Linked DNA regions of Homo sapiens: region 2 is linked to region 1. Evidence: fine-mapped expression QTL. A gene starts in region 1. The other region holds a variant in brackets. All regions are shown on one strand. Distances are between the middles of the regions. Region 1 holds the start of DNM1L (dynamin 1 like). Region 2 holds the start of LOC124902914 (a long non-coding RNA gene).

What was found. PIP is the estimated chance that this variant, and not a neighbour inherited with it, causes the effect.
Region 2: its variant is the best candidate, but not a certain one, in a credible set for the expression of DNM1L in cerebellum (GTEx, PIP 0.79).

What each region holds. Positions count from the first base shown.
Region 1 is chr12:32,670,316-32,685,714 of GRCh38, reverse strand. It overlaps DNM1L (dynamin 1 like), which reads right to left and starts at 6,414. Exons shown (of 20, transcript NM_012062.5): 1 at 6,250-6,414. The coding sequence starts at 6,351. RefSeq lists a silencer at 5,857-6,266 and an enhancer at 10,322-11,521.
Region 2 is chr12:32,644,875-32,660,273 of GRCh38, reverse strand. FGD4 (FYVE, RhoGEF and PH domain containing 4) reads right to left here. Exons shown (of 17, transcript NM_001370298.3): 17 at 14,224-15,399. LOC124902914 (a long non-coding RNA gene) reads right to left here and starts at 9,776. Exons shown (of 2, transcript XR_007063270.1): 1 at 9,510-9,776; 2 at 7,915-8,164. The variant T/G (reference allele first, on the strand shown) is at 11,361.

The DNA of each region.
Region 1 (15,399 bases):
AAGGATGTGCAGAAACCTGAACCCTGGAGGGGATGTGAAATGGTGCAGCCACGGCTGGGCGCAGCAGCTCACGCCTGTAATCCCAGCACTTTGGGAGGCCGAGGTGGGTGGATCATTTGAGGTCAGGAGTTCGAGACCAGCCTGACCAATATAAGGAAACCCTCGCCTCTACTAAAAATACAAAAAGTAGCCGGGCAGTAGTGGCGGGCACCTGTAATCCCAGCTACTCAGGATGCTGAAGCAGGAGAACGCCTTGAGCCTGGGAGGCAGAGGTTGCGGTAAGCCAAGATAGCGCCACAGCACTCCAGTCTGGGCGAGAAAGTGAGACCCTGTCTCAAAAAAAAAAAAAAAAAAAGGTGCAGCCACTATGGAAAACACTTTGGTAGTTTTTCAGAAAGTTAAACGTAAGAATTATCATATGAATCAGCAAGTCTACGCTTAGATATATACCCAAGAGAATCAAAAATACACATTCACTGACCGGGCGCGGTGGCTCACGCCTGTAATCCCAGCACTTTGGGAGGCCGAGGCGGGTGGATCACGAGGTGAGGAGATCGAGACCATCCTGGCTAACACGGTGAAACCCTGTCTCTACTAAAAACAAAAAATTAGCTGGGCGTGGTAGCGGGCACCTGCAGTCCCAGCTACTCGGGAGGCTGAGGCAGGAGAACGGCGTAAACCCGGGAGGCGGAGCTTGCGGTGAGCCAAGATCACGCCACTGCATTCCAGCCTGTGTGACAGAGCGAGACTCCATCTCAAAAAAAAAAAAAAAATACACATTCACACAAAAACTTGTAAACGAATGTTCGCAGAGCATTATTTATTCATAATAGCCAAAAAATAGAAACAACCCAAAAATTCATCAATTGATGAATAAACTGTGCTGTATCTATACAATGTAATATTTATTATTCTGCCATGCTACATAATGGATGAACCTAAAAAACATTATGTTGAGTGGCTCATGCCTATAATCCCAGCACTTTGGGAAGCTGAGGCAGGCAGATCACTTGAGGTCAGGAGTTCGAGACCAGCCTGGCCAACATGGCAAAACCTCGTCTCTACTAAAAATACAAAAAAATTAGCTGGGTGCGGTAGCACGCGCCTGTAATCCGGGCTGAGGCAGAAGAATCACCTGAACCCGGAAGGTGAAGGGTTGCAGTGAGCTGAGATTGTGCCATTGCACTCCAGCCTGAGCAACAGAGCAAAACTCTGTCTCAAAAAAGAAAAAAAAAAAGAATTATGTTGAGCAACAGATGCCTGGCACAAAAGATCAAATCACATATTATAGGATTCCACTAATGTGAAATATCCCAAATAGGCAAATCCATACAGACAAAAAGTAGATTAGTGGTTGCCAGTGATACCTGCTTTTTCCAGTATCATGCATTTTAAAATCCAATGATTCACTAATATATTTTTCAAATTAGGATCTAGGAACCATCTGTATCAGAGTCACCGATGGACCCTCACCCACGTGGGGCTTATAAAATCAAAACCTGTCAGAAGCTGGGGGAGGACAAAACGGGGGTGACTGCTTATGGGCAGGAGTTTTCTTTTTCAGGTAATGAAAATATTTTGGAATTACACTATGGTGGTACAACTTTGTGAACATACTAAACGCTGCTGAGTTGTGTATACTTTATAAGGGTGAATTTTGTGTTACATGAATATTTCAGTATTTTTAATGTTAAATTTTTAAAAGTTGATTTGCAAATTAGAAATTAAAATCCAAATTACTGGCCGGGCATGGTGGCTCATACCTGTTATCCCAGCAGGAGGCTGAGGCAGGCAGATCATTTGAGGTCAGGAGTTTGAGACCAGTCTGGCCAACGTTGTAAAATGCTGTCTCTACTAAAAATACAAAAATTAGGCCGAGCACAGTGGCTCATGTCTGTAATTCCAGCACTTTGGGAGGCCAAGGCAAGTGGATCATGAGGTCAGGAGTTCGAGACCAGCCTGACCAACACAGTGAAACCCCATCTCTACTAAAAATACAAAAATTAGCTGGGCGTGGTGGCATGCACCTGTAATCCCAGCTACTCAGGAGGCTGAGGCAGGAGAATCACTTGAACTCGGGAAGCGGAGGTTGCAGTGAGTTGAGATCGCACCACTGCACTCCAGCCTGGACAACAGAGCAAGACTCCATCTCTAAAAAAATAAATAATAAAATAAAATAAAATCCAAATTATTTTTAGGCTAGGTGCAGTGGCTCACACCTATACTCCTAGCACTTTGGGAGGCCAAGGCAAGAGGATCATTTGAGCCCAGGAGTTTGAGACCAGCCTTGGCAACATAGTAAGGCAGCGATTTTAAATTTAAAAAAAAAAATTAGCCAGATGCGTGCCTGTAGTCCCAGCTACTCAGGAGGCTGAGGCAAGAGGACTGCTTGAGCCCAGGAATTTGAGGTTACAGTGAGCTATGGATTATGCCACTGCACTCCAGCCTGGGTGAAAGAGCCAGACCCTAAAAAAATAAAAATAAAAAATCCAAATTGTTTTTCCTTTTACATTTGTCTGAATTACTGAAGATAGAATGCTGAAATCACTGAAATAAAAGGAAAAGTGTAAAGTACATTACTAGGAACACTAAGCCAGAGTCTCAGGTTAATGTCATCTGTATTCGGATACCTATATTGGGTGGTAGTTTAGATTACATACCTGGAGGGCTCCCCTTTCCAATTCTTAATTTAAGAAATAGGATTAAATTTCCCAAGTTGAGTCACAAAAGTTGTTTTAAGTCTTATCTCCTCTACTTGCAAAGTTACACCATGGTCTAAAAGTATCATCAGCCTTCTCTCTCTCCCCACTGTGTCTGTTCATTTCACACAGATGGTCTCTACTAGAAAAAATAAAAGCAATTTATTTAGCTAACACATAAAACATGTGAATGACTGATAGCTGTAAACAGGATTCCCTCACCTCCACTCCTCCAAGTCCCTAGCCCCCAAATGAGTGTTACTTGGGCATTTCATAAAACCAAAGTTTAAAACATTTAGGGGTCAGCAATGGTTGCCTGGGAAGTGATATATTAAAGCAAGAATGCCACCAAAGTCAGCATGGTACTGGATGGTAGTATGCCATAGATTCAACCTCCCCTAATTTTCCTGCTTTTTCCAGTATCATGCATTTTAAAATCCAATGATTCACTAATATGTTTTTCAAATTAGGATCTAGGAACCATCTGTATCAGAATCACCTATGGTCCCTCACCCAACCCAGGCTTATAAAATCAAAATCTCTGGAGACAGGATCCAGGAAACTTAGTTTCAAAGTGATTCTTAGGCCAGGCGGGGTGGTTCACACCTGTAATCCCAGCACTTTGGGAGGCCGAGACGGGTGGATCACCTGAGGTCGGGAGTTGGATACCAGCCTGACCAACATGGAGAAACTCTGTCTCTACTAAAAATACAAAATTAGCCGGGCGTGGTGGTGCATGCCTGTAATCCCAGCTATGTGGGAGGCTGAGGCAGGAGAATCACTTGAAGCCGGGAGGCAGAGGTTGCAGTGAACCAAGATCATGGCACTGCACTCTAGCCTGGGCAACAAGAGCGAAACTCGGTCTCAAAAAAAAAAAACCAAAGTGATTCTTAATACACACTCAAGTCTGAGAATCACTGTTCCAAAAAGTTCAACAAGATAGAAACTGAAGCCATTTAAGGTATGGATAATATGTAGGATAGAGACTACACTTGAAGTTGTTTTTTAATTTTTTTTTGGAAGAATCAGGGTCTCACTCTGTCGCCCAGGCTGGAGTGCCATCGCAGAATCATAGCTCACTGCAGCCTCAAACTCCTGGACTCAGGCAATCTTCCCAAGTAGCTGGGACTACCGGCACACACTACACACCATAGCACCTGGCTAATTTATACCTGTATTCTGAAGACACAATTACTGCCGATAGGTATACTAGGCAGAACTAAGTACAGAACACTTATATGTCTGGAACTCACTCACTACAATTACTTCATTAAATATAAATGTGAGGTATACATATATGTTACACAACACCAAAGAGTAAAAATGGCAGACATCACAAAGTAATGGTATACTAGTATTCAAACCAAGAAGAGATTCTTGTTTCCCCAACACACTACAAAAAAGGCGGGGGCGGGGGGGCGGTGTGGGGAGAAAATAGGGGCGGGGGGGGCGGTGTGGGGAGAAAATAGTTTCTATTCTCTCTCTTTCTGCTGGGGTGCAGTGACATGCACTCCTGCACGCACCACAGCCTCAACCTCCCAGGCTCAGGTGATCCTCCCACCTCAGCCTGCAGAGTAGCTGGGACTACAGGTTCGCACCACCATGCCCAGCTAATTTTCGTATTTTTCGTAAAGATGGAGTTTCCCCACGTTGCCCAGGCTGGTCTTGAACTCCTGGAATCAAGTGATCTGCCTACCTCGGATAATTTCTATTCTGTATTTCTTCTGTACTTGAGTAAAAGACTGATTATCAGCTAATAAGAACTTAGATGGAAATAACCCTCATTAAATCAAGTAGAAAAACTGACCTCTTGAGAAATTTCAAACACCAACATGCAAATATAGCATATAACTGTCAGTACTAGGATGGTTTTTGCACATGTTAATGGCTTTCAGAAGGATGGGATCTTTACTTTTCTCTCCTGCCACTCTGTATTTTGCCAACAGGTTTACTGACCAAAATAAACTCTATTTTGTGTAAAAAGAAAAAAACAACTTATTGATTTTAAACTATTTATGCTGACACACTATATCCCTAATTCTTTTACTTCCTCATGCTTAAAAAGCACTGAGACTCTCTTTTAAAAGTATGTGGAAAGTTTCTAGTGTGCAGCTAGAAGACACTTCTGAATCACTTACTATCAAAGACTTAATTTATATTATCTCTAACTTTTTACAAAAACAGGTTAGTTTTGATGATAAAAGTCCCAGTGTTTTAAAACATTGTGGTTAGAGTGAGCAATATTTACTCAAAATATTTACAGAGCACTTACTATATGTCCCAGACTGAACAAAATTATGTTCAATAAAAAATAATCCTCGTAATTTGTTTGATGCTTCTGAGTCTCCAAACATTACAAATATTGTTACAAATACTAGAATACGTAGGCAAGATTGAGCAGAATCTTTCCCAATCCTATCGCAGACCAAGGAAATGTGTTTCTAAAACAATTTCTATTGCTTCAACTATTTAAAAGCCAAAAAAACAAACAAACAAACAAACGAGTACAGGGTGTCTATAGTTTCCAGTGTTTGGATAGCCACTAATACTTTGAACAGTAAGTTCCTTCTGATAGCACTTATACCCTATACTATGTACCTCCTGGAAAATGATGGGGAAACCGCTCCTTCTCAATAGAAAAGATACTATTAAGAAATGAAAGCACTTAATATCAATATACTAATTTCTAAAATCCGTTTCTCTGAACTCTAATCGAAGTAGCAGAGAAAAGGAAAATTATACTTCTCCTCTGTCACTCTAGAAATAACAGTTATTTTGCCAACATTTCTGCATTCAAAAAAAAATGAGTTAGCTATGAGAAGACCAGAGAAACTGATGCCCAATTTAGGTCACGATCACAAAACTGTGGAAGACAAAAAGCACAGCCTACGCAGAAAAATCGGATATTCCTTCCCAACACCCGCAGAACTCTAGATACACGTTTTGTTTTTCTTTTTTTAAAATGCTGCTTCGGCGTTCTCGAAACCTGGTGGAATTATACTGCAGGAAAACACTGGCGCTCACGCACCGTAGCGTCTCTCAGCCTCAACAGAGCGATTCCAAAACTAACTCCGCAGTCCCTGGGCAAGGCAAGGAGGGAAATAAAACACCCGTCTCACGAAAGCCAACAGTGATGGGAACAGCCAGCCCACCGAGCCCAGCGAGACCCGAGTGCCCCGCGCGTCCCCCAGGTGCCCTTGGAGGCAGCGGCACGCGGACGAGGCCGCGCCCGGTCCCAGCGGACTCCAGTTCCGCCCGCCGGCCCCATCCTTCCCTCTCCTGTCCCCGGGACCCGCCGGGCTAGCCAGGCCCGCCGCGCCGGCTCCGCCCCTGGCCGGGCCCCGGATTCTCCGCCTTGATGCAACGCTGCCCCGGGAGGGCGGGTGCGGCAGAGCCCGGAGAGCCCTGGGGCCCCCAGCAAGGCCCTCCTCCCACAGGCCCCAAAGGCTGGCGCGGGAGTGGGCGCTGGCGCGGGAGTGGGCACTGCCGCAGCACCGACCAGGCCTGCGGCCGGGGTCTGGCCCGAGCGAACGCCGCCTGCTGCTCTCACCTGCGTTCCCACTACGACGATTTGAGGCAGCTGGATGATGTCGGCGCCCACCGTGTTGAAGACGTCCTGGAGCTTGTTTATGACAGGAATTAGCGCCTCCATGACTCTGAAAACACGGGGCCCCAGTGCCCGCCGGCCACGGCAATGAATGGGGCCGGGGCCCACAGTTCGCCTCCTTCCTCCTCTCCTCCGCCCTCTCCTCGGAAGCCGGCACCCATTGGACCGGGCCCGCCGGCTACCTGCCCCCTCCCGGCAGGCCATGCGCTGCGAGGGAGGTGGAGAGGAGCAAGGCCTGCTGGGAGTTGTAGTTCTGGAGCGGAGGAACGCTACTCCCCACAGCTTCCAGGAGGCTGCGCGGCACCGGTGGGCCCTAGCCTGGGACTGGGATGCTGCGCAGGCTCTAGTCAAAGGCTAGGAGCAGGCCGGGAGCGCAGGAGGAAGGCCGTAAATTTATGCCTGTCCTCAAGGCACGATGGATGTGACAGTGCTGGGTGTGAATATGTGTTAAAGGCGCAATGGTGTGTCTCTTAATTATCCAGTGTCACTTCCTTTTATTTATTTTTTATTTATTTATTTTTTTTTTTTTTTTGAGACGGAGTCTCACTCTGTCGCCCAGGCTGGAGTGCAGTGGCGCGATCTCGGCCCACTGCAAATTCCGCCTCCCGGGTTCACGCCATTCTCCTGCCTCAGCCTTCGGAGTAGCTGGGACTACAGGCACCCACCACTACGCCCGGCTAATTTTTTGTATTTTTAGTAGAGACGGGGTTTCACTGTGTTTTCCAGGATGGTCTCGATCTCCGGACCTAGTGATCCACCCGCCTCGGCCTCCCAAAGTGTTGGGATTACAGGCGTGAGCAGTGTGACTTCCTTATGAAGACACTTTCTCTAGAAGGACGGGTTGGAAAGGCTTAAAGAAAAGCTTATGGCCGCAAACAACCAAACTGGGTGCAAAAAAATCTGCACGCTGATACGAGAATGTGTGGGGTGTTATTTTGCAAAAATACAAAAACCAGCCCAGGTTAGAATACGCGGGTTCTCCAGGGGTTTTGTAAACAAACAAACAAACAAACAAAATGTGTGTTCAGGACCGAGCGCGGTGTAATCCCAGCACTTTAGGAAGCAGAAGCAGGAGGATCGCTTGAGCTGGGAGTTCGAGACCAGCCTGGTCAACATAGTGAGACCTCATCTCTACCAAATAAATAAATAAATAAATAAAAAAGCAGGGGTCGGAGCAGCGGGGGGCGGTGTTCATGAAAAAAATCTTAGAGTATTGGAGTTTTACAGGGGAAGAGCTGGGCATTTATTATCAATATTATGTATAAACCTTTATTTGCTGTAGCCTGATTCCTGGCAAAGTAGACATCTGATAACTGCCTTACTCACTCTTTGCTCATACCGTTCTTTTTTTTTTTTGAGACAGAGTCTGACTCTGTCGCCCAGGCTGGAATGCAGTGGCGCAATCTCGGCTCACTGCAGCCTCCTCCTCCCAGGCTGAAGTGATTCTCCTGCCTCAGCCCCCCAAGTAGCTGTTATTACAGGCACCCGCCACCACCCTGGGAAAATTTTTGTATTTTTAGTAGAGACGGGTGGGGGGCGGGGTTTCACCATGTTAGCCAGGCTGGTCTCGAACTCCTGACCTCAAGTGATCCGCCCATCTTGGCCTCCCACAGTCCTGGGATTACAGGCCTGAGCCACCATGCCCGGCCCATACTGTTATATTTCTAAATGTTGTTTTTCTTTTTAGACAGATAGTATCCCTCCTCTACTCCAAACCTCCAAAGGTAAAAGTAAACCTCAAAGTAAAAAGGTGACATTTGAGTAAAGAATTAAAGCAGGTGAGGAGAGGCCAGGCACCGTGGCTCACGCCTGTAATTCCAGCACTTTGGGAGGCCAAGGCAGGCGGATCACTTGAGGTCAGGAGTTCAAGACCAGCCTGACCAACATGGAGAAACCCCGTCTCTACTAAAAATACAAAAATTAACCGGGCGTGGTGGTGCATTCCTGTAATCCCAGCTACTCAGGAGGCTGAGGCAGGAGACGGGCAGATCACTTGAGGTCAGGAGTTCAAGGCCAGCCTGGGCAACACGGCAAAACCCAGTCTCTACAAAAAATACAAAAAAATTAGCTTGCCTGTCGTGGTGGTGCATACCTGTGGCCCCAACTACTTGGGAGGCTGCAGTAGGAGGATCACCTAAGCTTGGGAGGTGGGGACTGCAGTGAACTGTGATCGTGCCACCGCACTCCAGCCTAAGTGACAGAGTGAGGCCCTGTGTCAAAAAAAAAAAAAGAGAAAAGAGAAAAGAAAACATAATAAGAGCACTTTTTCCAGTCTGAGCAAGAGGATAGAGATTCGAGAAAGACTTCCTAGAAGTTACTAAATTTAATCTCCATGAGGACAAGAACCACCAGCAGTAGTGGAAGTTGTGCACTACGCAACTCCAGTGGGTGCCATTCACCTGCTTAGCTGTACACAATGGCTGCGGGGAACATGCTTGATTTGTTCAGCAGGACAAATGGCAGGTGCTTAATAAATATCTGTGAACAAATGGATGAAGTAAGCCAAGACCTAAAGATCCATTAGTGGTGTTTTGGCATCTTGACAGGTTTTGTGAACATCTCCTCTTTGATTATTTTCAAAAAAAAAATTTTTCAGAGATAAAATAAGACAAAAATTTCAGAACTCCAAAAAACAGTTTTATTCCAAGTCTCTTGACTTTCTACCAAAGATAATATTACATAATAGTCAGATATTACCCACTTTGCTTCTCACCCCTCTGTTGATGGAGCTTTTGTTTTCTTCTAAAGAAAACAGAAGGCCGGGCACGGTGGCTCATGCCTGTAATCCCAGTACTTCAGGAGGCCAAGGTGGGCATATCACCTGATGTCGGGAGTTCAAGACCAGCCTGACCAACATGGAGAAACCCCATCTCTACTAAAAATACAAAAATTAGCTGGGCGTGATGGTGCACGCCTGTAATCCCAGCTACTCGGGAGGCTGAGGCAGGAGAATTGCTTGAACCCGGGAGGCAGAGGTTGCGGTGAGCCGAGATTGCACCATTGCATTCCAGCCTTGGCAACAGGAGCAAAACTCCGTCTCAAAAAAAAAAAAAAAAAAAAAGAGCCAGGCCCGGTGGCTCACGCCTGTAATCCCAGCACTTTGGAAGGCCGAGGTGGGCGGGTCACCTGAGGTCAGGAGTTCAAGACCAGCCTGACAAACATGGTGAAACCCCATCTCTACTAAGAATACAAAAAAAAAATTAGCCTGGTGTGGCGCGTGCCTGTAATCCCAGCTACTCGGGAGGCTGAGGCAGGAGAATCGCTTGAACCCGGGAGGCAGAGGTTGCAGTGAGCCGAGATCGCGCCACTGCACTCCAGCCTGGGCGGCAAGAGCAAAACTCCAACTAAAAAAAAAAAAAAAGAAGAAAAAAAACCAATTTCGGCTTTCATGTTTTAAGTTCAGAACACTCTTGTTTGTGGGAAATCAATTTAACTAATAAGTGGCTAAATGGATTTCCCACAAAAAAGAGTCTTTGTGCATCTAAGAATAATGTGTTCTTCAGTGGCTTCCTGTGGGAATCACATTAAACCATTATCGGATATCAAAAGGCCTTTAAAAAAACCTCTTCTCGGCCAGGTGCGGTGCCTCACACCTGTAATCCCAGCACTTTGGGAGGCCGAAGTGGGTGGATCACGAGGTCAGGAGATGGAGACCATCCTGGCTAACACGGTGAAACCCCGTCTCTACTAAAAATACAAAAAATTAGCCAGGCGTGCTGGCACGCGCCTGTAGTCCTAGCTACTGGGGAGGCTGAGGCAGGAGAATTGTTTGAACCTGGGAGGCAGAGGTTGCAGCAAGCCAAGATCGCGCCACTGCACTACAGCCTGGGCAACAGAGTGAGACTCTATCTCAAAAAAAAAAAACAACAACAACAAAAAACACCTCTTCTCCTGCAACCATCCCTCTCTCACCATAGCTTTATGATTTAGGCAGGATAGCTAATTGTAAGGACAGAAATTTAATTCTGAGCTAACTTGCCTCAAAAATGACTGAATGTCTGGGCGCAGTGGCTCTAGCCTGTAATCCAAGCACTTTGGGAGGCCGAGATGGGTGGATCAGTTGGGGTCAGGAGTTCAAGACCAGCCTGGCCAACATGGTGAAACCTCGTCTCTACTAAAAACACAAAAATTAGCTGGGGGTGGTGGTGAGAGCCTGTAATCCCAGCCACTCGGGAGGCTGAGGCAGGAGAATTGCTTGAACCCGGGAGGCGGAAGTTTCAGTGAGCCAAAATCACGTCACCGCATTCCAGCCTGGGTGACACAGTGACACTCCACCTCAAAAAAAAAAATGACTGGAACTAGGAGCTCAGGCAGAATCAGAGCTCTACATCTTATCACTACATCGTCTATTTCATTCTCTCACGCAGTTTACTCCTGTGGAATGAGGTGAGTGTGCTGTGGGGGAGGGTGTAGGGGATCTCATTCAGCAAGCTGTCTCACAGCAGATGAGGCAGAGAGAACTGGGGAGGAACTGAAACCTAGGAACCTGGTTTCTGCCTTGCTTCTCTAGTATATTAGTTCCCTATTGCTGCCTTAACAAATTACCACAATTTTAGTGGCTTAAAACAACAAAAATGTGGCCAGGCGCAATGGCTCACTTCTGTAATCCCAGCACTTTGGGAGGCCGAGGCGGGCGGATCACGAGTTCAGGAGATTGAGACCATCCTGGCTAACATGGTGAAGCCCTGTCTCTAGTAAAAATACAAAAAATTAACCGGGCGTGGTGGCGGGTACCTGTAGTCCCAGCTACCCGGGAGGCCGAGGCAGGAGAATGGCGTGAACCTGGGAGGCAGAGCTTGCAGTGAGCCAAGATCACGCCACTGCACTCCAGCCTGGGCAACACAGTGAGACTCCATGTCAAAAAAAAAAAAAAAGTATTGTTTTACAGTTCTATAGTTCAGTAGTCTCACACAGGTCTCACTGGACTAAAATCAAGGTGTCACCAGGGCTGCAAACCCTCCTAAAGCCTCTAGCAGGGAATTCACCTCCTTGCCTTTGTTAGGGGCCCCCTGCATTCCTTGCTGGTTACCTCCTTCCAACCTCTTCAAAGCCAGCAATGTCGCATCTCTTTAACTCTTCTGCTGTCATCAGGCCTCTGACCCCCAGAAAAGCTTCTCTGTGTTTAAGGGCCCATCATTAGATTGGCCAACCTGGACAACCCAGGATAATATCCCTGTCTCAAGGCCTGTACCCTTAATCACATCTACAGAGTCTCTCCTGAGACATAAAGTTCACAGGCTCCAGGGATTAGGACATGGACTTATTGGAGGGGCCTACTGCACCTGGTTAAGGTGATTGGTCTAGGGATGGACCTGCAGGACCATTTAGAATCCTTCTCTGAGAATTTCCTAACCTGAATTTGAACAAAAATATTTTCTCTCTCTGGTTATAGAACTGTAAGCATGTGAGTCAATGTCTCCAAAGATCATGTTTCCTATCTCATGGAATAAATTGGTTTGCAAGAATAAACTTCTTTATTCACCTTGAAGAACTTCCCCAAATTCAGTAACTTACCCATATATATACATATATATATATATTTTTTTTTTTTTTTGAGACAGAGTCTTGCTCTATCACCCAGGCTGGAGTGCAGTGGTGCAATCTCAGCTCACTGCAAGCTCCGCCTCCTGGGTTCACGCCATTCTCCTACCTCAGCCTCCCGAATAACTGGGACTACAGGCGCCCACCGCCACACCCGGCTAATTTTTTGTATTTTTAGTAGCGATGGGGTTTCACCATGTTAGCCAGGATGGTCTTGATCTCCTGACCTCGTGATCTGCCCGCCTCAGCCTCCCAAAGTGCTGGGATTACAGGCATGAGCCACTGCGCCTGGCCAACTTTCCCATATTTTTAAATGTACATGTGCTGTACAGCACATAACATCAGAATTCTAATCCCCATAGTTAACCATATGAATTTCTCCATTTTTCCTTGTTGCCCTTTTCACACAATATTATTGAACTATTATTTAAGTGCTTATTGTATGTGAGGCACTATACTAAGCATTTTATCAGAGCCTCGTGAAGTAGGTTTAGAGATGTAGAAACGGAGGCTCCAGGGATTGAAGTGAAGTGGTAAATTTACACAGCTAGTATGTGGCAGAGATGGGATGAAAAGGGGCTTTTTGGCAAACCCCCTTTTTTTTCTTTTTTTTGAAACAGTCTTACTCTGTCGCCACAGTGGTGCGATCTCAACTCACTGCAACCTCTGCCTCCCAGGTTCAAGCAATTCTCCTGTCTCAGCCTCCCCAGTAGCTGGAACTACAAGCGCACACCGCCTCGCCAGGCTAATTTTTGTATTTTTAGTAGAGACTGGGTTTCACCATATTGGTCAGGCTGGTCTTAAACTCCTGACCTCAGGTGATCCACCCGCCTCGGACTCCCAAAGTGCTGGGATTACAGGTGTGAGCCACCATGCCCGGCAGCAAACTCTCAACCGCTACACATTCTGCCTCGTGTATTTATTCCTTTCTTCATTAATTCAACACATATTGATGAAGTACTTGTTAGGCATACGGATCTTAGCCAGGCAGTATATTTTGCTGGAGAGTAGGGAGGAACCGTGGATATGGCACTAACATGCCCTCCCCCTTCACCAATAGTGAGCTCACGAAGGGCAGAAGTGATTATCTTATTTAGCTGGGTTCCCCCACTACCTCGTATGAAGCGTGTTACATAATATTAGTCTACTGGATATGGGGTTTTCTTTTCTTTTTTATTTGGAAAATCTGGAATAACAAGGATTTAAGCAGCTCTGAATTGATATAATTGCAACCAGGACTGGCAATCAAATCTCACCAACACATATGAGTCTGGCTTGGCATAGGACTCCTCATTAGAATAGATGCCAAGTTACTTAGCTAGGGAGTAGCCTGGCTTTGTTCTAACTTAAAATCCCGAATTAGAGGAAGTTTATTTTGGATTAAATTAATAACTGGAAATTAATCGATCTTGGAAAAGGTCAGACTGTTTTTATCGCATGTGTCCAATATCATTTTATGCCAACATTTTGATCATCAATCACAGCCAAGATGCCGGTATCTGCACCTTCAAATCATAGCGGTTAGTGGGGATCTAATGTTAATATAAAATATACAGCTCTGTTGGGGAAGCCTCTTTGTCATATTTTGGAAACTGCCCGTGTTTTGCAAAGATGATAAAGTAAACAGCTTTAATCAATTTGCTACTCCCCAGGCCTCAAGCTTAACACATACTTTGTTAGCAGGTGCAGGAAATTGTTTGCAGATGGTGGAATTGGCCAGATGGTTCAGAAGCCAGAAATTGAATCTGGTGAGATACTGACGGGACCATGAGAGGGCAGTGTGACAACACAATTAAGAGCAGTTAACGACAAAATAACTTGGGAGTTAAGATATGGTCCTGATTTCTTCCCTTTGCTCCACACCCACACCCCAATAGAACGTAGCCCTTCTTTTTATCCTCCTACCATCAAAATTTGTGGCATATTTTAGAAACTATTTGAGATAATAGAGTTATTTTATTTATATTTATATATTTATTTTTGAGATCAAGTCTCGCTCTGTAGCCCAGGCTGGAGTGCAGTGGCACAATCTCAGCTCACTGCAACCTCTGCCTCCTGGGTTCAAGGGATTCTCCCACCTCAGCCTCCCAAGTAGCTGGGATTACAATAGGCGTGGGCCACTCGCCAGCTAATTTTTGTATTTTGTTTATTTATTTTTTTGAAAGACAGAGTTTCGCTCTTGTTGCCCAGGCTGGAGTGCAATGGCATGATCTCAGCTCACCGCAACCTCTGCCTCCCGGGTTCAAGTGATTCTCCTGCCTCAGCCTCCCGAGTAGTTGGGATTACAGGTATGCACCACCACGCCCGGCTAATTTTGTATTTTTTTAGTAGAAACGGGGTTTCTCCATGTTGGTCAGGCTGGTCTCGAACTCCTGACCTCAGATGATCCGCCCTGAGGTGTTAGCTAGACATCCAAAGTGCTGGGATTACAGGTGTGAGCCACTGCGCCCGGCTGTATTTTCAGTAGAGACAGGGTTTTGCCATGTTGGCCAGGCTGGCCTCAAACTCCTGACCTCAGGTGATCCGCCCATCTTGGCCTCTGAAAGTGCTGGGATTACAGGCATGAGCCACCACGCCCAGCAATAGTGATTTTAAATTACAGCAGTGACAACTGAAAATTATATGTTAGACATCCCTGCATTTAAACTACTTCACTTGCCCCATTTCTCAAGCCTTCTCATTAGCCTCTTTACAACTCTACTCCAGGTTCTCAAATGTTGTTTGACATTCTTAGAAGCTTTTCATATCTCCCTTCTCTGTTTTTCTGTTTTTTGTCTCCCTCACACAAACTCAATTTGCTCATATTTGATGGTGAAGAGAAATTTCACTTTTAGCCCTTGGTTAGCTGCTACCTTTGCAGATCTAAAGGCTCCCTAGTACACTATGACAAACAAAAGGGACACCTACTCTGGGACGCAAGATCATGGGAAGCATGACGTGGTTCTGGACTTAATGGTTCTGATGATATTTTCCTGATTCTCAGATAACAGTCGAGATAAAAAGATCCCGAGAGCCAGCTGTCGCTTATGATAAATATACAGTAACTTCTGGTGTACTGATTTTGTGACATTGTTCGGGAAGTAATTCCTGGATGTCTAGCTAACACCTGTTTTTCCCAGGCACTCTAACAGATTTATAAGCATCTAATTTCCCATATTAAATATCTTTCGGGCCGGGTGTGGTGGCTCACGCCTGTAATCCCAGCACTTTGGGAGGCCAAACAGGCAGATCACTGAGGCCAGGAGTTCGAGACTAGCCTGGCAACATGGCAAAACCCCATCCCTACTAAAAATACAAAAATTAGCTGGGCATGGAGCTGCACGGCTGTAGCTCCAGCTACTCGAGAGGCTGAGGTGGGACAATTGCTTGAACCCAGGAGGCAGAGGTTGTAGTGAGCCGAGATTGCACCACTGCACTGCAGCCTGGGCAACCGAGCAAGACTGTCAAATGAATGAATGAATCTCTTTCTGCATAAACTTGGTGGTGGAATATATTTGTTTCCTGGGGCTGCTGTAACAAAGTACCACTGACTGGTTGGTTTAGAACAGCAGA
Region 2 (15,399 bases), 25 kb after region 1:
CAGCTCCCAATTTCCTTTCTCCTTTATAAACATTTGGCTGTTTTAGAAAGCCTTTTTATGGATCTCTTAATTCCTTTCTCTTTTCCAGCCAGATAGCTATCTTTGCTTTCAGTCTAGACAGCCCACAACAGGCTGAGGCTTACCTGAGAGCCTCTCAGTGAAGCCTGTGGAGCTGGGTGGACAGCAGGAGGGTGTGCTGTCACAGGGAGCAGGCAGAGCACTGAAGTCTTGGCTGCACAGGGCTGTGGTACTGCGCCTGAGTGCAACCCTTAAGACTAATGGCCTTTCCTCAACTTTATCACAATGGTTCATAAAAATGGGGACCAGGGGCCGGGTGTGGTGGCTCACACCTGTAATCCCAGCACTTTGGGAGGCCAAGGTGGGTGGATCACCTGAGGTCAGTAGTTCGAGACCAGCCCAGCTAACATGGCGAAACCCTGTCTCTACTAAAAATACAAAAATTAGCAGGGCATGGTGGCACAGCCCTGTAGTTGCAGCTACTCGGGAGGCTGAGGCAGGAGAATTGCTTGAATCCGGGAGGCAGAGGTTGCAGTGAGCCGAGATCATGCCACTCAGCCTTGGTGACACAGCAAGACTCATCTCAATAATAAATAAATAAATAAATAAATAAATAAATAAATAAATAATTTTTAAAAATGGGGATGAGGGACAGGCAAAAAAATGGAATGAGTGAGAATCACTTGGGAGAAAATTATACACCCAAGCCCACCTGCCAGCATGCAGCCTCAGGCATATCAAATCCACAGGGCAGCAGGATGTGGGACAGATGTGTGTATTTCCGAAACACAGCTCACATGATTCTCAGATGTTGCTTCCTCCCACCCTCTCCTTCGAGTTGAATCACCTGCCAAAGGGGTTTTCTATGACATCTGCCCTTTATCACAGATGGAACTCTCAGTAACAAGTCAAAGATGTTTCTTGATGCATTATTTACAATGCTTACACTGAAAAACTGTGATGGAATATGAATGAAATTATTTCTATAAAGTTCCTAGAATAGTGGCTAGCAGATACTAAACCCTCAGGTTTTGGCTGTTACTGTGAAAACTGTTTTGGAAGGAGGGGAAGTGCTTAGGGTACAATTTAAATAAAACTAATAGGACCTCAGACTACAAACAGTGGATCTCTATTTTATTTTATTATTATTATTTTTTGAGACGGAGTCTCTCTTTGTTGCCCAGGCAGGGCAGTGGCACAATCTCCGTTCACTGCAGCCTCTGCCTCCCGGGTTCAAGTGATTCTTGTGCCTCAGCCTCTGGAGTAGCTGGGATTACAGGTGCCCACCACCATGCCTGGCTAATTTTTATATTTTTAGTAGAGACAGGGTTTCACCTTGTTGGCCAGGCTGGTCTTGAACTCCTGACCTCAGGTGATGCACCCGCCTTGGCGTCCCAAACTGCTGGGATTACAGGCGTGAGCTATGGCGCCCGGCCCGGATCTCTATTTTATTTTATTTTTTTGAGACGGAGTCTTGCTTTGTCGTCCAGTCGGGAGTACAATGGCGCGATCTCGGCTCACTGCCACCTCCGCCCCTTCAGGTTTAAGCAGTTCTCTGCCTCAGCCTCCCGAGTAGCTGGGATTACAGGCGCCCGCCACCATGCCCGGCTAATTTTTTGTATTTTTAGTAGAGACGGGGTTTCACCATCTTGGCCAGGCTGGTCTTGAACTCCTGACCTCCTGACCTGCCTTAGGCCTCCCAAAGTGCTGAGATTACAGGCGTGAGCCACCGCGCCCGGCCAGATCTCTATTTTATAAAGAGACACCTAGCCGGGCGCGGTGGCTCACGCCTGTAATCCCAGCACTTTGGGAGGCCGAGGCGGGCAGATCACGAGATCAGATCGAGACCGTCCTGGCTAAAACGGTGAAACCCCGTCTCTACTAAAAATACAAAAATTAGCGAGGCGTGGTGGAGGGCGCCTGTAGTCCCAGCTACTAGGGAGGCTGAGGCAGGAGAATCGCTTGAACCCGGGAGGCGGAGCTTACAGTGGGCCGAGATCGCGCCACTGCACTCCAGCCTGGGCTACAGAGCGAGACTCTGTCTCAAAAAAAAAAAAAAAAAAAAAAAAGAGAGAGAGAGAGACACCTATATAACACCTATATATGGGGGATCCCAGGTCAAGATTGAGCTGTGACAGTAGTCTATCCCTTGGATTCGGTCGTGAGTTCTATTGTGGATAAGGTTGGAGAAATTTGCTTTGATTTTTTTTTTTTTTTTTTTTTTTTTTTAAGAAAAGGAGAATAACAGAATCAAGGAGCAAGGGCAACTTGACCATGGGGCGGCCGCATTGTAGACTGTTCTTCCCAGCAGAGCAGGATAAGGGGGGCTGGCCGGGGAGCTGCCGGTGTTGCCATCCTGTAAGGGATGCTAAAGTATCAATGAGCACTTAGGCATCTCTGAAACCATAGTGATATGGAGAAAGTTGTGTTTGCCGGAACTCCTGCAGAGCACAGAATGTGGTTAGTCACTTATCATAGTTTGAAACCCTTAGAGGGCACTCTTGAGCAACAATAAATGATCCCTAAACAGCTTTCCAGTGAAACCTGTTCCAGCTGATTCCACGTCCTTTTACTTGATGAGTAGTAAATATACACAACTCTCTCCCCAAAACTGAAGAGCGCAGATACAATGGAAAGATTGCCAGCTCTCCCCCAGAAGTCTGACTATTTTGTTCATCCCTCCGTGCTCTAAATACATGTTGAGGCCAGGTGCAGTGGCTCATGCCTGTAATCCCAGCACTTTGGGAGGCCAAGGTAGGAGGATCACTTGAGCCCAGAAGGTTGAGGCTGCAGTGAGCCGTTTGTGCCACTGGGTGACAGAGACCCTGTCTCAAAAACAAATAAAAAAACCCAATAAAATAAATTCATGTTGAGCAACTATTTCAAGAATATTGATTTTAAAGGGTGCCTAGATATTACTTTACCTGGGAGCCTACATGTCCCATCTGTTCCTGATCTCAGGCTGGCCCCATGGCCCACATCACAGCCCCATAAACAGTGAGTTGTTGGCAGAAGCTGAAGGAATTATGTGTTGTGTTTGGTTGTTATGTTGTCCAAGGAATCTGTTGAGCCCAAAGACCTAAGCAACACACACAGTATAACTGGGGCTCAGGTAACAAATAGTAATGCGAAGTGTGGGAGCTGGGGATCTCTCTTCTGTGTGGAGCCCAGCTCCACTGCCAGATAATACACCAAAGCTGAGAGGAAGGGTGGACCTGGCCCTTGGTTACCACTACTGGCAAACTATCCTAGGTGGCCAACTGCTACTAGTGGGCTGGTGCTATCATTTTGTTAGATGGATAAAGTGGATATTGGTGGTTCCTTAATAACAATGTATTTCTTCTTAAACTTTAAATTTTTAGATGGAAAAAATGGAAAAGACAGAGAAGAAAAATTAAGAAAAAAAACAGCTAGGCTTTTATTTTATTTTATTTTGAGACAGAGTCTTGCTCTGTTGCCCAGGCTGGAGTGCAGTGGAGTGATCTCAGCTCACTGAAGCCTTGGCCTCCCGGGTTCAAGCGATTCTCCTGCCTCAGCCTCCCGAGTAGCTGGGATTACAGGTGCCCGCCACCATGCCTGGCTAATTTTTGTATTTTCAGTAGAGATGGGTTTCACCATGTTGGCCAGGCTGGTCTTGAACTCCTGACCTTGTGATCCTCCCGCCTCGGCCTCCCAAAGTGCTAGGATTACAGGCATGAGCCACCATGCCCGGCTTTTTTTTTTTTTTTTTTTTAATTTAATAGACATTAATCTTTACTTTGGCTGTTTGAAGCAAGAGTTTGAGAAACTGCTCCTCTCTGGACTTGGGGCTCTAATCTCATACATGGGTTTTGTTTTGTTTTGTTTTTTCTTTTCTTTTTTTCTTTTTTTTGAGACAGAGTCTCATTCTGTCACCCAGGATGGAGTGCAGTGGTGTGATCTCCTCTCACTGAAACCTCCGCCTCCAGGGTTCAAGTGATTCCCGTACCTCAGCATCCTGAGTAGCTAGGACTACCTGCCACCATGCCTGGCTAATTTTGTATCTTTTGTAGAGACAGGATCTCACTATGTTGCCCAGACTGGTCTCAAACTCCTGGGTTCAAGTGATCTGCCCACCTTGGCCTCCCAATGTGCTGGAATTACAAGCGTGAGCCACCACTGATCTTTTTAATGTGTCAAAGTTTTACCTTTTTCAGAATGTCATATACATAGTTGGAATCATATGATATGTAGTTTTGTTTTTGTTTTTAGAGATGGGGTATCACTATGTTGCTCAGACTGGTCTCAAACTCTTAGGCTCAAGTGACATGTCAGAAGAACCAGGAGGCAGCTCGAAGGGTCTCCCACTGGCAAAATCTGGGACAGTTAAACATAAAAATTAACATAAAATTTAAAATAATGGCAACGGATTATACAATCCATTGAATAAAATAGGAACACAGGAATCCAAACATATGAATGAATGAATGAATGAATGAATGAATAAATAAATAAATGATAAGAAAAAATGCTTATAGTAGGATGCCAACAAATAAGTGTAGAAGAAATGATGAAATGAAAACATCAGCAATTGACAAAACAAAGGAATCATTCAGAATCATCAATGGACATTGATGGGTAAAAAATTCTTGACTAGGATATCTACATAATCTCAAAATATGTCTCCATATATATATATTTTTTTCTTTTTGAGATGGAGTCTTGCTGTGTCCCCAGGCTGGAGTGCAATGGCACGATCTTGGCTCAATGCAACCTCCACCTCCTGAGTTCAGGCGATTCTCATGCCTCAGCCTCCCAAGTAGCTGGGACTACAGGCACGTGTCACCACACCCAGCTAATTTTTGTGTTTGTAGTAGAGATGGGGTTTCACCATGTTGGCCAGGTTGGTCTCGAACTCCTGGCCTCAAGTGATCTGCCTGCCTCTGCCTCCGAAAGTGCTTGGATTACAGGCATAAGAGCCACTGCACCCAGCCAATATGTAGCCTTTTTAGTTGACTTCTTTCATTTGGTGAATGCCCTTAAGGTCCCTCTATGTCTTTTCATAGCCTGATAGCTAATTTCTTTTTAGTGCTGCATAATACTCCATTGTCACATTTGTCGATCTGTTCACCTACTGAAGGACGTCTTGGTTGTTTCCAAGTGTTGGCAATTGTGAATAAAGCTGCTCTGTAGCAGGTTTGTGTGTGGACATAAGTTTTCAACTCATTTAGGTAAATACCAAGGAGTGTGCTGCTGGTTCGTATAAGTTTAGTTTTGCAAGAAAAACTGTCAAACTATAAAGTGGCTGTACCCTTTTGCCTTCCCACCTACCATGAGCGAGAGTTCCAGTTGCTCCACATCCTTGTCAGCATTTGTGGTCAGTGTCTCGATGTTGACCATTCTAACAGGTGTGTAGTAATATCTCATTTTAATTTACATTTCTTCCAAAACTTCAATTTATTTGAAATATATTCAGACTTACAGAAAAGTCATAAGTATTTTAAAAGAACTCTAGTTTACCCTTCACCTAGATTCTTTTAACATTTTTATCACATTGCTTCTGCTCTATCATTCTTTCTCCCTCTCTCTCATCTCTGAACCATTTGAGTATAAGTTACAGACACGATGTGTCTTTTTCCTCAAATACTTCAGTGTATATTTTCAAGGACATGGATATTTTCTTACATAACCACAGTGCAATGGTCAAAACAGAAAAATTAGCAGCTACAGTATGATGATCTAATCTACAGATGTTATTCATTTAACGGTTATCTCAATAATATCCTTTATAGCCAAAAAAAAGAAAGAATAAATTGTGGCCTAAGTCCAGCGCACATTGCATTTACTTATCATGTGTTTCTATCCTTTAACCTGGAACAGTTCTTTAGTCTGTCTTTGTCTTTCATGAGCTTAACTTTTTTTTTTTTTTTGAGACGGAGTCTCACTCTGTCACCCAGGCTGGAGTGCAATGGCATGATCTTGGCTCACTGCAACCTCCGCTTCCCAAGTGATTTTCATGCCTCAGCTCCCGAGTAGTTGGGACTACAGGTGCCCGCCACCAAGCCCAGCTAATTTTTGTATTTTTAGAGGAGATGGGCTTTCACCATATTGGCCAGGCTGGTCTCGAACTCCTGACCTTGTGATCCACCCGTCTTGGCCTCTCAAAGTGCTGGGATTACAGGCGTGAGCCACTGCGCCCAGCTGAATTTAACATTTTTGAAGAATACAGGCCAGGTAATTTTTTTTTTTTTTTTTTTTGAGACAGAGTCTCGCTCTGTCGCCCAGGCTGGAGTGCAGTGGTGCAATCTTGGCTCATTGCCAGCTCTGCCTCCCAGGTTCATGTCATTCTGCCTCAGCTTCCCGAGTAGCTGGGACTACAGGCGCCCGCCACCAAGCCCGGCTAATTTTTTGTATTTTTAGTAGAAACAGGGTTTCACCGTGTTAGCCAGGATAATCTTGATCTCCTGACCTCCTGATCCGCCTGCCTCGGCCTTCCGAAGTACTGGGATTACAGGTGTAAGCCACCGTGCCCTGCCAAATATAGGCCAGGTATTCTATAGAATGTTCCTGAGTTTGGGTTTGTCTGTTATTTCCTCATGATTAGATTACACTTTTAAAAATGTATTTAGTTTGTCATGTAACCCCAAATACTCAGATAGATTTCACTTTTAGCAGGAAAACAACAGATGTGATGTGTCCTCTCAGTGCTTCATATCAAGAGATACATGAGACCAGTTTGTCCTCACTGGTAATGTTAACTTGGTTAAGATGCTGTCCACCAAGTTTTTCTACTGCAAAGTTACTATTTTTATTTTTGTAATTAATAAGAATTTTATGGGCCAGGCGCGGTGGCTCAGCATGTAATCCCAGCACTTTGGGAGGCTGAGGTGGGCGGATCACTTGAGGCCAGGAGTTCCAGAACAATCTGGCCAAGATGGTGAAACCATGTCCCTACTAAAAACACAAAAATTAGCTGGACGTGGTGGCTCACGCCTGTAGTCCCAACTACTTGGGAGGCTGAGGCACAAGAATTGCTTGAACTCCGGAGGTGGAGGTGGCAGTGAGCTGAGATCCTGCCACTGCACTCCAGCCTGGGGACAGAGCAAGACTCCATCTCAAAACAAAACAAAAAAGCAATTTTATGGAGACATATTTTGAGATTATGTAGTTATCCTGGTCAAGAATTTTTTACCCATCAATGTCCACTGAGGATTCTGAATGATTCCTTTGTTTTGTCAATTGCTAATGTTTTCATTTTATCATTTCTTCTACACTTACTTGTTGACATCCTACTATAAGCACTTTTTCTTATCATTTATTTATTCATTCTTTCATATGTTTGGATTCCTGTGTTCCTCCTTTATTCAATGGATTTTATAATCCATTGCCATCATTTTAAATTTTTTTTGTTAATTTTTATGTTTAACTGTCCCAGATTTTGCCAGTGGGAGACCCTTCAAGCTGCCTCCTAGTTCTTCTGACATGTCCCCATCATTCTTTGGGCCCTTTCTTACTTTCTGGTACAATATAATATTCCAGGCTTATTGTGAATTTTTCCTGCCCAAGCCCTTGAATCAACCATTTCTTCAAGGAATGCTGGTTCTTTTTAGTGGAAAATGGTGTTTAGAAAACAAAATACAAAAACAAAATTGGGGTATTACTTCTAGACCCTCACAGCAGACAGCTAGAAAATATGTGTATATGTACATTTATATAACCCCCCACATAGGTATTATATGTACTATATCTATATTTATACTTAGCTAAACCATTAATACCTATTTTCCATTCCAATAACATAGGATTTATTATGTCCCCCCTTCCACATCTATATCTGCTTTCTCTGACAGTAGGAAACTTGGCTCCCATTATCCTCAGCATATTTATTTACTGGATTAGTCAGGGTTCTCTAGAGGGACAGAGCTAATAGGATAGATGTATATATGAAGGGGAGTTTATTAAGGAGTATTGATGCACACGATCACAAGGTGAGGTCCCACAATAGGCCGTCTGCAAGCTGAGGGGTAAGGAAGCCAGTCTGAGTCCCAAAACCTCAGAAGTAGGGGAGCCGACAGCGCAGCCTTCAGTCTGTGGCCAAAGGCCTGAGAACCCCTGGCAAACCAATGGTGTAGTCCAAGAGTCCAAAAGCTGAAAAACTTGGAGTCTGTTGTTCAAGGGCAGGACGCATCTAGCACGGGAGAAAGACAAAGGCCAGAAGACTCAGCAAGTCTGCTCTTCCATCTTCTGCCTGGTTTATTCTAGCTGCGCTGGCAGCTGATTAGGCAGTGCCCACCCAGATTGAGGGTGGGTCTGCCTCTCCCAGTCCACCGACTCAAATGTTACTCTCCTTTCGCAGCACCCTCACGGACACACCCAGGAACAATACTTTGCATCCTTCAATCCAATCAAGTTGACACTCAATATGAACTATCACATTCACTGAGTTCTAGAACTCAGCAAAACAAATAAACACATGTTAGAACTACTAAGCTCTACCACTGGGAAAAACAAGCCAGGGATCTAGAGTTCAATATTTGTTTGCACTCTGAGTCCACATACTGTATGCAAAAGTTTGAGTTAGTTCTTTTTTCTCTTCAGTGTGGTTATGTTTTTCATTTGGTACCATTTGATATATGGATATGTTCACTTGTTTATATTTGTACTCCATGGGGGAGGGGAGTGTTCACCATTAGGGGTGTGTGTGTGTGTGTGTGTCTGTTTATAAAACACTGAGATGGTTCAAAAGTCAAAACTCTGCAAAAAGGTATACTCACGAAAGCATCATGACTTTTTTTAGCAAATAATTTTTCATTTCTTTCTTTCTTTCTTTCTTTCTTTTTTTTTTTTTTGAGACAGGGTTTCACTCTGTCACCCAGGCTGGAATACAATGGTGCAATCATAGCTCACTGCGACCTCAAACCCCTGGGCTCAAGCGATCCTCCTGCCTCAGCCTTCTCAGTAGCTGGGACTACAGGCTCATGCCACCATGCCCACCTAATTATTACTACTTTTTTTAAAGATAGGAGGGTCCTCACTATCTTGCCCAGTCTGGTCTCTAACTCCTGGCCTCAAGTGATTCTCCCACCTTGTCCTCTCAAAGTGGCAAATAATTCTTTTTTATTGAGAGTTCTTCCTCCTATTTTTTTTATAACTGTGGGCCTGGATCCTTTGGTTCATTTACCCTGTATTCATTCTGTGCCTTCCTGTTCTCCAGTCTTCAAGCACATACATAGACATACACACAAATTCAGCAGATAGTAAAAAAAACCACAAGATGATCTTTCAGATGACATACATTTTTCCCACTTTTAAACATAACATGATTCTATGTGGAAACAATTTTTTAAGTTAATTTTTTGCACCGTAATTATTTTTGTTTGGTGTATGATAATGACATATTTAAGTGATCATCTAAAAATAGCAATTTTTGTGAAAATGCCACAGTGGGCTATGAGGCCCTAATCTTATTCTATAAAAGCAGAGCATTTCCTTTACTAAGAGAGTAAGCAAACTGGTTTTCTGTTTTTACTTACCTGCAGGACAAAACAGTGCATGAATCACTTCCTCTGTAAGAAAGTGATGGTAGCCTAGGCGCTCATTATCCAAACCATTTGCCAGGTCCACTCTGCCAGCCCCATTTCCTCAGGATGTCTGTCCTTCAGCACTTTCGGCTCCTTCTGGGACAGTCATCAGCTGCCTCTAATCTCCTCACAGTCCAGGTGCTGTGATAATGGTGGTGGTAGTGGGCTGAGACTGTATGTCTCTCTCTCTCTATATATATATTTTTTCTTGTAAAATTTTTTTATTTTTTATTTTTTAAATTATTATTATTATTATTGAGATGGAGTCTCGCTCTGTCACCCAGGCTGGAGTGCAGTGGCGTGATCGCGGCTCACTGCAAGCTGCACCTTCCAGGTTCACGCCATTCTCCTGCCTCAGCCTCCTGAGTAGCTGGGACTACAGGCACCCGCCACCACACCCAGCTAATTTTTTTGTATTTTTAGTAGAGACAGGGTTTCACCGTGTTAGCCAGGATGGTCTTGATCTCCTGACCTCGTGATCCGCCTGCCTCGGCCTCCCAAAGTGCTGGGATTACAGGCGTGAGCCACCACGCCCAGCCTAATTTTATTTTTTTTAAGCTGCAGGTCTTGCTATGTTGCCCAAGCTGGTCTCGAACTCTGGGTTCAAGTGATCTTCCTGTCTCAGCCTCCCAGGTGAATTACAGGCATGATGCCTAGCTCTGAGACTGATTTTTTAAAAACAAGAATCCACTGTGCCAAGGTTGACTAAGATTTTCACCATTATATTTTGAAGTCCTGTTTTTTCTCTTTTTCCTTTTTTTTTTTCTTTTCTTTTTGACACAGGGTCTTGCTCTGTCACTCAGGCTGGAGTCGGGGAGGATTGCTTGAGCCTGGGAAGCAGAGGTTGCAGTGAGCTGTGATCATGCCACTGATTCTAGCCTCAGCGACAAAGCAAGGCTCTGTCTCAAAAATAAATAAGTAAAAATAAAATTGGGGCCAGGAGCGGTGGCTCACACCTGTAATCCCAGCACTTTAGGAGGCCGAGGCAGGTGGATCACGAGGTCAAGAGATCGAGACCATTCTGGCCAACATGGTGAAACCCCGTTTCTACTAAAAATACCAAAATTAGCTGGGCTTGGTGGCATGTGCCTGTGGTCCTAGCTACTCAGGAGGCTGAGTCAGGAGAATCGCTTGAACCTGGGAGACAGAGGTTGCAGTGAGCCAAGATCACACTACTGTACTCCACCCTGACGACAGAGCGAGACTCCGTCTCAAAAAATAAATAAAATAAAGTTCGGAGTTGACAGCATGAAAGTATGAAAGTATGTGTGAATACTAGTGGAATGAGTGCAGATAAAGGAGATAAGTCACAACATACTTAGGCCTGAGACACCCCTGAAAGGTGTGAAAAACAGCAAAGAAGACCAAGAAAGGGTTCAAGAGAAGAACATCAGGGGTTTGGGGCTGGGCGCTATGGCTCACACCTGTAATCCCAGCACTTTGGGAGGCTGAGATGGGAGGATCGCTTGAGTCCAGGAGTTCAAGACCAGTCTGGTCTGCATGGAGAGACCTCCCCATCCCTAAAGTAAATACATAAATAGAAAAAAAATCCAAGGGTTTGGGGTTCTACAAGCCAAGGGAAGAAAGTGAATTAAGGAGAGCATGACCAAGTATGTCAAATGCTACTAAGATGAGGACTGAGAACTTGACTATTGAATTTAGCAGCATACAAGTTATTGGTAACCTTGATATAAGAGCAGTTTCAGTGAAATGGTGGGTGCAAAATGCTGACTGGAATCCGTTCAGTAAAGAACGGGAAGAGAGGAATTGGAGACAGTAAGTATAGAAAACTCTTTCAAGGAG[T/G]GTTGCTGCTAATGGGAGGAAAAGTGGAGTGAAGAGGCTTACGTTGGGAAGAATTATAGCAGGTTTTCGCTAATAAGATTCAAGAAGAAATCTGACATTACATGAGAAAGGGAGAATGGCAGGCGAATGGGAAATTGGATACTGTGCACAGGTGAGGGACCCAATTAGGACAGGACATGGATAGGCAGGGAGAGAGAGTATATGGTCTCAAGAGGTAATAGGTGGCTTAGATATGGTTGTGGGAGGCTGTCCCCTGCTGATTGCTTGTATTTTACTAAAGTGGGAAGGAAGGTCATCTATTGGGATGGAGGATTGGGGATACAGTGGAGGTCTCAGGAGGAAGTAGTGATGACCTAGTAATAAATTTTAGGTGAAACCAATCTGCTTTGTTCAGCCACATGGGTACAAGTATGAAAACAGAACTGAGTAAACTGGGGATTTGGTTTTGCCAAGCGAGACAAAGCTAGACGTGGCGAAGGAAGTGAGTGAATGTGAGGGAGTGATCAGTGACTGAACATCGGATTTAAAATGGGTAAGGGTAGAAGAGAGGACATCAAGAGCTGAGGGACAAATTATTAGCTTTTTAAAATCTGTTTTCTTTCTTTTTTTTGGAGAGGGGGAGGTAGGGACAGAGTTTCACCCTTGTTGCCCAGGCTGGAGTGCGATGGCACTATCTCAGCTCACTGCAACCTCCACCTCCCGGGTTCAAACAATTCTCCTGCCTCAGCCTCCCAAATAGTTGGGATTACAGGCGTGCGCAACCATGCCCAGCTAATTTTGTATTTTTAGTAGAGACAGGGTTTCACCATGTTGGTCGGGCTGTTTTTGAACTCCTGACCTCAAGTGATCCACCTACCTCCGACTCCCAAAGTGCTGGGATTACAGGCATGAGCCACCACGCCTGGCCAAATCTGTTTTCTTATCTGAATCTTAGAATGTTATTGTGAGGCTTTTATGTGATAATGTAAATACAGTACTTAGCACAGAACTAAGCACTGAATAAACATTCTACCAGTGCTTCTGAAATGAAGCTTTCCATCAGAATCACCTGGGGAATTTTTGAACCGACTATTACTCGGAGGCCAATGCAGACAAATAAATAGAATTTTTGAGGGGGATGGGGATGGGGACCAGGGAATGGCTCTAACTACTCTGCAGGTGATTCACATGTGCAGTCAGGGCTGCAAATTTTTGAATTAACAAAAATGATCTCTATTAACAATTATGAACTGAATATCTCATATGGGCCAGACAATATATGATTGTCTCATGTAAGTCTCACAAGTCTTCAAGGCTCAAACATAAGTGGTAGAGCCAGGGATTTCTAGTCAATGGTCTCGGACACTAAGTCCTTCCCACTATAAGCTTGGTACTCCAGTGATGGTTTGAGGAGCAGCAGCACCCCTCGGGAGCTTGTTAGAACTGCATCGCAGGCCACTATGTCAGTCTGCAGTTTAACAAGATCCCCAGGTGATTCATGTGTACATTAGAGTTTGAGAAGCCTTGAATTATGCCACTCTGATGTAATGTGGACCCAAATCACATTTGGGTCCCTTTGTGAGCCAAGGGCAATGTTTATTTTACAGAATCCTTCAGCTGATGCCAATTGCTTTAAAGCATCAATTTTAAAATTGTTGATTAGTTCTTCGTGTCCTAAAAAAGCTAATAGGCTTCTGCGAAGGGTTATCTCTGGAAATGTTTTAGTTATGAAATCACAGTGGAAGTCATGAGGATTCCTTTTCAGGGCTTTAAAAAGGCTAAAGCCAATTGAGTAGCTGTATGAAACTCCGAAGTGTTCCATGACATATTATTTGTATAGCGTTTCATAGTCACCGAGTGCGATGTTTCTTGTAGTGACCACAGGAATTCATTATTGGGATTCAGGTAAATTGTCTAAGGTCATATGACCAGTAAGACAAGGACTAAGACTTTTTTTTTTTTTTTGAGACAGAATCTCACTCTGTCACCCAGGCTGGAGTGCAGTGGCGCCATCTCAGTTCACTGCAACCTCCGCCTCCCGGGTTCACGCCATTCTCCTGTCTCAGCCACTCGGGTAGCTCGGACTACAGGCACCCGCTACCACACCCGGCTAATTTTTTGTATTTTTAGTAGGGACAGGGTTTCACTGTGTTAGCCAGGATGGTCTCAATCTCCTGACCTCATGATCTGCCTGCCTCGGCCTCCTAAAGTGCTGGGATTACAGGTGTGAGCCACCATACCCGGCCTCAACAGTTCTTTTGAGTTCTCTTTTCGTGCTTATTTCACTATACAGTTGACCCTTGAACAACACAGGATTGAAGCACAGGTCCTTATATGTGGACTTTTTTTCAATAAATAGCCCTCTGCATTGATGGATTCCACATTTACAACCAAATGTGGATGAAAACACGGTATTCCATCAGGATGCAAAACCCACCAATACGGAGGTTTGACTCAGTATCTGTGGGTTCCAGAGAGCTCAGGGACTTGAGTATGAGCAGATTTGGGTACCTGTGAGTGGTCCTGGAACCAGTCTCCCATAGACACTGTGGGCCGACTGGATAAGCCTCTAGAATGTAGGCAAACACCACAAACTATGGAGCAAAACAATCGTTTCCTTGGGTATGGAGCAGCACTGTTTTGTCGGTTGTTGGAGATCTAGACTTGGAGTTATAACAAAGAGAAGCCACTGTTTCTATACTTGGAGAACCTTGAGTCTGTCATAAGCTTTATTCTTGAAAGACTTACACTTTTTTTTTTTTTTTTTTGGCAGAGGGTAGGTTGGAGGTAGGAGTATCAGTACCTTACTGGAGTAACTTTCCTGAGCAGAACTGAAATCACTGTGAACTGAACATGAGCTGAAATAACATGTAAAGCTTTGGAATTAATTTAAGGATGTGTTTATTTACAAGATACAAATGTTTAATATTTAATAGGAATTAAAGTGCTTAATTTTACAATGTTTCCAATTATCTGCTTTTATGACCAAATATACATATATTACACAATATATACATTATCTGCAAGTATTTTACATTCACATAGCTAGAAAAGAAAAATTACTTGTGTATACTTTCACACTTGAGTCAACTGTAAAATTCCAAAAACATACATTCTCAAACTTATCAGTCAAGAATTCAAAAGAAAAATCCAGATACGCTTATTTTATTTTTTGAGTCGAAGTCTTGCTCTGTCACCCAGGCCGGAGTGCAGTGGTGCAATCTCGGCTCACTGCAACCTCTGTCTCCCGGGTTCAAGCAATTCTCCTGCCTCAACCTCCCGAGTAGCTGGGATTACAGGCATGTGCCACCACACCTGGCTAATTTTTGTAGAGACAGGGTTTTGCCATGTTGGCCAGGCTGGTCTCGAACTCCTCGGCCTCCCAAAGTGCTGGGATTACAGGCATGGGCTACCGTGCCTGGCCCAGATACACTTATTTTGTTTTATTTTTATTTAGTAGAGACAGGGTTTCACCATGTTGGCCAGGCTGGTCTCAAACTCCTGACCTGAAGTGATCTGCCCACCTCGGCCTCCCAAGGGCTGGGATTACAGGCATGAGCCACTATGCCCGGCCTATGCTTATTTTAAAATGTCAATTGTCACTCACAAAATGAAATGCTAGTTTGGTTAAAAAAAAAAAAGTCTTATATACAGACAGACATGACTGTTTTGCTAATGAAGAGAACCCCCCACAAGTGATACATTCCAATATCCATATACTGTGTAATATATAATGTGATTCTCTTATAATGGTCCCCACAGACTAGTTTCTTCCCAAACCTATATGTCACTATGTATTTGGTATTTATTTATTAAAGTATGATATGAGATTTCTTGATTTACGTTTTCCACTAAAACTACCACAATGAATTTTGGGAAAAGGGGTTGACCATCATATAACTCCCGGTGACCCCAACAAGTTAAAACTATCTTGTAGAAGCCATGTGCTATTTCATGTCAAAATACAGGAAAAGATACTGCATTCTGCCAAATGCTCAGTCCAGAAAGTAGAAGACCATGATTGACTTCAGATTTTTTTTTTTTTTGCCTCAGTAAACAG